Homo sapiens: one gene and its partner. The protein of the gene in region 2 interacts with the protein of the main gene of each other region in a pairwise test. Each region holds a gene or a part of one and is shown on either strand. Other genes may lie near its edges. The genes, in order: GALNT7 and COL5A1.

Region 1 (3,911 bases), on a different chromosome or scaffold from region 2:
GAAAAGTCAAAAATCGTAAGCTGAATCATGGTAAGTCAGGGACCATCTATATTGTCTTCAGTGTTTATCTGAAATTACCCAGCTAGCGTCTACATATCCACCTTTTAATGTAGCCCATGTGTACTTGTCTGTGTTGTTAAAAACTGTAGTGCAAGATCAGAGAGCACAGCTCTGAAGTTAGAACACCTGAGATTGAATCCTGGCTCTACAATTAATTAAGTGAATAAACTTGGACAAAGAGTTCACCTCTCTATACCACAACAGTCTCATCTATAAAGTTGGGATTCCATCGGACTTGCAATAGAGGGTGGTTGTTACAAATAAACAACCAAATACATGTAGAATATGTATTAGGCCCAAAGTAAGGATTCAATATATGTAAACTATTATTGTTGCTGTTATTACTGAAATCTTTAATTTAGTTACTTTTCAGATTGTACATTCATTCTTCAGGAATGAGAATCGAAATTCAAAATATGAACAAAGACAATTATCTAGTTAGGAGCTGAATAATCACAGTCATTTTCCTTCATTCAATAGCTACTCAAATCTTGCTGACCAACTTTTTTAATAACTCAAGTTAGAATTTCCACATATTCTGTTTACAGATGGCTCAAGCTCAGAATTTTGCTTTTCATTCGTGAATTATTTTCTCTCTTCCTCTTTCTCCAATTTACTATTGTCTAACAGTTTATACAGGAACCCAAATCGTATCTCACACGTTATCTCCCATCCCATGCAACCAGCCTAAGTCACAAAATAGACTGCTGTTCAAAAGTTTTCATTCTCTCTTTACTAGTAACTGTGCATTCCCCAAAGGCCATTTTAAGCCTTCTCCACCTACTGGTTTGACTACTGATGAAACATATCCTTGTGACAGTTCTTGTATTATTTCTTTACATTGCTACTGGATTAAGCAATAGCTCTCCCCACCCCCAACTAGATTGTGAGAGCAGGAACTCCCACTTCAGGTGTTATCAGTATTCTTCATGAGGTCTTAGGGAGGGGAGGATGGGGATGGGGGAGGGGCAAGCAGGTGGTAACAGGGCTGATGCCTGACCTCACATAGACCACTGGATGGAAAACTTTTCCACAGAAGTGATAAATACAACAATTCTTAGGAATTCGCCAAACATTTCCGAAATGTTCAGACCTATGTGGGAGACATAAATGGATGTACCTTAGTTTCTTTGAAAAATATTTAATATGTGCCTTCCATAAAATTAGCACCAGGAAAGATGGAGGAAATACTCAACAAACAGGAAACATGAACCCTGCCTTCAAAGGGCACATGGTCAGTGGCTGGAAGCCTTGTTTGGTTTAGAGGACACTTTAGGAAACATGAAAGCTTCTGATTATCAACCTAGAAAAAAATGTAGATGTATGCAAAAGTTCTGCATTAATTTCAGGAAGTCTATAAACCCCAGACTTCTCAGACTTGGTGATGTGATATTTTTAATCATTATTATGTGTGGGGGGAGAAGGGGGATGGGACACTGAAAACAGCAAAGGAAACAAAAACCAATCCTAAGGTGTATAGCCTGGGAAACTGAGAGAACAGTGACCACTTAAGACACTACACTTTCACTAAGTGATAGCTCCATCCCTAATAGTATAAACAGAGCTTCCATTTGAAGTACAATCTCATGTTCAAGGGCAGAATTTTTCAGGTTACAACTGATCATCACTGAGATAAAATGGCTTTGGTAAGGTGGAACTTGACTGCCAGGGTAATCAGTTCAGCCACTAATCCTCATTTAAGCTATATTCCTTTCAAACCTGTTAGCTTGCCTATCACATAAAACCTCTTGGCCTACTAGTTCCTGAATTAGTCCTATTATATACACCCTGAACCTAAGTGGCATTAATGACTTGACTAAAGTTGCATTTGCATATCCAGAGAGTCATTAGTTTACACACAGCTTCTCACCAGTACTGAATGTTTTAATGCAGGGGTCCCCAACCCTGGGTCATGGAGCATAAACCCTATTGTGAACTGCATGCAAGGGATCCGGGTTGCACACTCCTTATGAGAATCTAATACCTAATGATCTGAGGCGGAACAGTTTCATCCCCAAACCATCCCCCACCCAACCCAACTCCCCCAGTCTGTGGAATAATTGTCTTTGACAAAACCAGTCCCTGGTGCTAAAAAGGTGGGGGACTGCTGTTTTAATGGATCTGTCAACATTTCCTTTAAAAACCTTTATTTTCAGAGGCTTATGGGTCAACTGTAGACAGTCACTCAGGGCTAAAACCTGGGATAAATGGTGTTAGTCTGGGACATAATTTATTTAATTAAAGGAACTTTCTGTGCTTTGCAAGTCCAAGCAGATAATCTTAATAAATGCTGACCTTAAAATATCCAGAGGGCAAAGACTAAAAAAAAAAAAGCTTCCCATAATCATAAAATACAATACAAGAAGGTATACATTTTGCTTTGAGAACTTTCCATAATGAAACAAATAATCTATCATCCTAGGCCTCCTGACACCTTCACTACCATATCCAATAGCCAAATCCTGATGCCTTTGCATCTTTAGGAGCTCTTGAATCAATTTATTTTTTTCTATCTCTACCACCGCCCTGCCAATCTAAGCAAGGATTATGTCCCACCTGAATAATGATGACCCCCACCAGGACTCCTGCTACCTGTTCTATAGACAAATACATACTTTCTGTAGGCAGCCAGAGTGATCTTTTCAAAACACAAATCCACTCTTCCCTACTTAAAATCTTTCAACGGCTTCTCACCGCACTTAAGATCTCCTCCTTAGCATGGACTACGAGACCCATGCTTTCCTGTGTGGCATCATTCTACTTGTCATTCTCCACGTTCCAACAATATTTATCTCCTAGTTTCTCACTATTTCACTCATGCTACCTCCTGCCTCAGGACCTTTGCCCAAATGCTCCTTCTCAAGAATGCTGCCACCCACTTCCAGATTAACTACTTTTCTTGAAATGTTCAGATTTCGCCTCAAAAGTCAGAGTAGGCAGCTAGGCAGACATGAGCAGGGCAGGAAAGGCCCCCCACCACCAGGAATGTCAGGCGGCCATCAGGTGATGGTCAGGCCGTTGTTAAACTGTCTCTCTGAAATAATAATTGGTCGCGCCAACACCATGGAAAGGCAGTCTCCCATTAGATAGAAAACACCTAAAGCTGGTTATCAGCAGGTTCCCACTAAGATCTCAGGAGTTGGGCAAGTGGGCTCCAGCATGTGCACTAATAGGCAAAATGGCAGCTTTTAACTAGTATATGCCCTTCCTCTAGGAAGGCTCAAATTGTAAGGGAAAAATGCCTCAAGTGAGCATGAGTAAAACTTCAGTAAACACACTGCAGGCAGCCCCTCCCCGCTGCTGGCAGGCCACTGCGCATGCAGACAGCCCACCCCAAGGGAAGAATCACGGGAGAAGAAACGCAAACCCTGGAATCATGCCAATGTATAAAACCCCAAGTCCAGGGTCAGACGAGGTACTTGGATTTCTCAAGTAGCCCACATGGCCTTCTTCAAAGTGTACTTCCTTCCGTTCCTGCTCTAAAGCTTTTTAATACTCTCACTCCTGCTCAAAAATTTGCCTCGGTCTCTCACTCTGCCTTATGCCCCTCCAATAAATTCTTTCCCACAGGAGGTAAGAATCGAGTTGCTTCAGACCTGTGTGGATTTGCTACTGCTAATAGTCATTTCTTCAAGTAAGGCTTTTATGACCAAATTCCTCCATTTTCTTGCCCCCTATGGTTTTCACTATGAAAGCAGTAGCACAATTTTTATTTATATATTTATCGAGGTTTGATTGCTGTGTGGTTTTTACAAGATCCATGAGATTAAGGACAAGGAGTATTTCCTTAACAACTAGTACCATGCCTGGTATATAATTGGCACTCAAAAATGTTCAAATAAATCAATATT
Region 2 (3,911 bases):
GGCATGCCACATGGGCTTCATGAGTCTCAGGAGGGGTCACACACACACAGTTGCTTTCTCAATTCCCTCGGAGCTAGCCAGAGCCCCCGTCCCGCTTTCTGGGCTTCAAGGGCTACTTACCGGGGGGCCTGGGGGTCCTGGGTGGCCTGCCTCACCCTTCGGGCCAGTTGGACCCTGGGGAGAAAGAAAAGAATCAACCCTTGGTCACAGAGGTATGAGGGGACTTTGAATCCACCTTCAGCTCTAGAATGGTCCCTGGAGACCTATGTGGGGGAGGTGGCCCTATCAGCCACAGCAGAGAAGAGAATGGCAGAGACCCCTGTACCCTCCTGGATCCTTGAGATGAGAACAGAGAGGGATGGAGCCCTTCCTAGGGCAGGCGGCGAGCAGCCCACCTGCCTCAGTCCGCCATGGGTCAGTGTAGAAAGATGGGAGGATCGTGAGCAGCAGGGCCTGAGCTAGGACGGTTGTCTGGGTAGTTTGTTCCCGTGCCAGGGGACCCGTCGCCCTCCCCTACCTTCCAGGCATTGGCCTGGCTGGGCAGCATGTTACTTACCGAGGAGCCCTTAGCACCTTTTGGACCAGGCGGACCCTGCAGAGAGAGGAGGGCAGAACGTCAGCAAGCCGGGTCTCAGCTCCAGCCCCACCGTGCTCCATGTCCTGCCCAGCCTGGTCTCGCCCCTCGCCCCTCTCCCACCCGCATCCCCCTCAAGAGTCTATGCTTGTATTTGCCCGGCTAGAGTGGGAGGAGGGTCGGGGCCTGGCTGGTGCTCACCCCTCGTGGAGACACAGGGTGGTCCTACCTGCCCCCGGCCAGCCTACCACCCACCCTGGCTAGGAAACCCCAGCTCAGACAGCCGCGGGGGGGGCGCAGCGGAAAAGAGCATGTCCTGGCTCAGAAGGGGCTGATGGAATGCACCCCCCAGCCCTGATAGCACACAGCAGGGGCCAGCCCTCAGCGTGCCAGGGGCCCCCGGGGGCCATGTGTACCTGCAGCCCAGCGGCTGTGGGGATGCCCTGGGAATGCTGGGTCTCCCAGCAATGTGAGACCCAGGCAGCGGTGCCAGAGGAGGGCAGCTAACTGCTCTTGTCTGGGCCAGGCTGGCCGGGCTCCTGGGAATTGGGAGGGCTGGAGAGCCAACTACTACCTTCCGCACCCTCCCCAGATGCCTACAGACAAGTGGCCTCGTTCCCTGAAATGGCCACCGTTTCCTGTCCCTGTCTTCCCCACCAAAAACCATGGCCGGGCAACGCCACTTCCTTTCTTCTGTCTCCTGGAACCCCAATGTTGAGTTAATGGGCAAATCCACCCTGGAGGCCCCAATTCCAGCTTCTCGTGTGACTTTTCCACAATTCTCTAGCTCCACACTGAGGCCCCAAGGCTTATCCCCACCCTCCCTGCCCTCCCAGGAATGACCAAGCCCCTCCCAGATACACACCGGCAGGCCAGGGGGCCCAGGAGGCCCAATCGGGCCAGAAGGACCAGTGATACCCTGAAAAGGACCAGAAAATGCAGGTTATCACCTTCAGACGAGGAGGAGCTGCGGGGCTGCAACCCTGCTACCCAGCCACACCCCTCGGCTCCCCTGTCCCTTCCCCACGGTATGCCCTTTGGCCCCTCAGCAGCCTCCTGTGGCTGCTTTCTGATCCTGGGCTGTGCATGTCAGGGGAGCCATCGACCTGAGCATCCACCCCAAGGCTGCCAGCCCTCGGCACTGCTCCCCCGGCTGGGCTGCCAGGAACTCACTCTCATCCCCCAGGCCACCGAGGACTTCAGGCTGAGCACCTCTTTTCACGTTCATTTGGAAATACAGAAACCACTGCCCTGACATTGTGGCCCTGGCTTGGGCCCCTCTTGCTGTTTCCTGCTCATGGTGTTAGTCTCCCCTCTAGAACTAAGCCCGGAGGGGTTGGGCAGGGAGTCCCATCCATGCTGACTGTCCTGTCCTGCCTGTAAATGTGCTTTCTGCATCCTTGGAGCGTGGAACCTCCGCTCAGACCCCTTCTCCCCACTGACTCCCTCCCAGACTGAGCTGCTGGCACAGAACAGCTTTGACCAGCTTTGCCACGGGCAGCTGGAGCCACCTGCAGCCTCTCTCCCTACAGCCCTGGATTCCACTCAGAGCTCTCTCCGGGCAGAAGCTGGGGGCGAGGGTAGCGGAGGGCTGATGGCCGTATTTCACTGGGGAGGGAGCGCTTCCCTCCCTTCACCTTGTCCCTGCAGGAACTTGGGCTGTGGCTCATTGTAAGGACCCCACAACTACCCAAGCCTGCACACCAACCCGACACCTTCATCAGCAATGCCGCCAAGACCATGGTTTGGGGTGAGGGCAGGTGAGCAAACAGGGTGGACACAGGGGTGCTTTCCCCGCTGGCCGTGGGGACCCTGGATGCCTCTCTAATTCTCGTGGTTGCCGGGCCACCACACCCTGGGCGGCACTCCTCCGACGACCCTGCTGTGGCCTGGGGATACCGGCAGAGGAAAACAGTCAATGGCATGGAGGACACTGGCCAGTGAGGTAGGGTTTGCAATGAGCTCCACCCTTCAGCCATGTCCTGCAACCTTCCCCGGGCCCATAGTGAGGGTGCCACCTTACTCCCAGCCTCCAGGGGCTCTGCCTGCTCCTGCCCTGTCCCCCGCATCCTATGAGGCATGGGCGTGGGTGGGCACAGCATACTGTGCGTGTGTGTGTCCGTCACACCTTGCTCGGGACGGAAAGATTCCCACACAGGAATAAGGACCCGTGGCCCTCATGGGGGAAGGACAGAGGCACTACAGGTCACCTCATCCCCTCTCCTGCCTCCATGGCACACGTCACCCTCCCCAGGCCACTTCCAAGTCACTCAGAGTTGTGGGACAGAGTGAAGCTCTCTGCATGGCGTTTCCTTGGCTATGGTTTGCAGAGGCTGCAAACTCCAATGAGCTACAGTTTGGGGGCAGCTGGGGACAAGGTGGAAGCAGGAGCCAGAACAGCCACTCTGCCCGCAGCTCTGGCAAACACGGCTGGTTGTCACCAGTGACCTCCTGGGCAAGCGGTGGGTGACAGGCTCTCCCACAGGGCTGGGAACCAGGCAGAATGACCTGACTTCCGAGTCCCTCCAGCTCTGGGGGACACCACGGTCATGAGGAGGAAGCCCCGCCTGCCAGTCAGGGCATGGAGCTGGGAGACGGCTCTGCCCAGCTCACTGTGCACCTGGGCAAGCCCAGCCCGTCAGTGTTCCCATCTGCCAAGCAGGATGACCGGACTCAACCGACGTGTGGACGTCCTTCCGGGCTCTGATGGGCCTCCTGTCCCCTGGGTGCCTGCCCCAGGGATCTAAAATGCCTCTCGACAGCCCACATGCAAGAAGTGCCATCTCACGCACCTGTTCTCCCTTAGGACCGGAGGAGCCCTGGGGGCCAGGGAGACCACGGTCGCCCTTCTCACCCTGTTCACCCGGAGGACCGATGAGCCCGATCAGGCCTGGATGACCCTGTGGGAAAATGAAGACAGGAAGGGGCATTTGAGGGAGCCACGCCTCATGCTCGGCCACGGTGGGCCAGTTAGCACGCAGCACAGCCATGGCACAGGAAGCTTTACATCATGGTCAGCCTCCCCTGGAAGGGGAACAGGCTCAACAGAGGGGCCAGGTGACGAAACGGCAGGTCCGAGGTGGCCCTTCGCTGGCCACAGTCACGTCTAAAAACAGACAGGGAGCCACAGACACTGAGACAGACCAAAGTGATAAAGGGGTTTTCCTGAGTGGTAATGTTTATCTCTGTCTTTCTCTTCGTATACGCTCTCCAATTTCCTATGGCAAATCCGAACGCCTGCTCCTATACGGAACTAAAACAAAGTTTGTGGACTGACACGGAAAGAAAGATGCAGAGTATTATAGATATTACAATCATGGGTTGTTTTTCTAAAAAA

What was found.
Region 1: the proteins of COL5A1 (region 2) and GALNT7 interact in a two-hybrid assay, tested with the Homo sapiens proteins (one study listed by IntAct).

What each region holds. Positions count from the first base shown.
Region 1 is NC_000004.12:173,171,726-173,175,636, reverse strand, and holds part of GALNT7 (N-acetylgalactosaminyltransferase 7), read right to left. Parts: intron 1-3,911. UniProt on the Homo sapiens protein: Glycopeptide transferase involved in O-linked oligosaccharide biosynthesis, which catalyzes the transfer of an N-acetyl-D-galactosamine residue to an already glycosylated peptide.
Region 2 is NC_000009.12:134,819,679-134,823,589, reverse strand, and holds part of COL5A1 (collagen alpha-1(V) chain isoform 1 preproprotein), read right to left. Parts: exon of another isoform or gene 3,475-3,911; coding exon 3,367-3,474; intron 1,494-3,366; coding exon 1,440-1,493; intron 593-1,439; coding exon 557-592; intron 175-556; coding exon 121-174; intron 1-120. UniProt on the Homo sapiens protein: Type V collagen is a member of group I collagen (fibrillar forming collagen). It is a minor connective tissue component of nearly ubiquitous distribution. Type V collagen binds to DNA, heparan sulfate, thrombospondin, heparin, and insulin.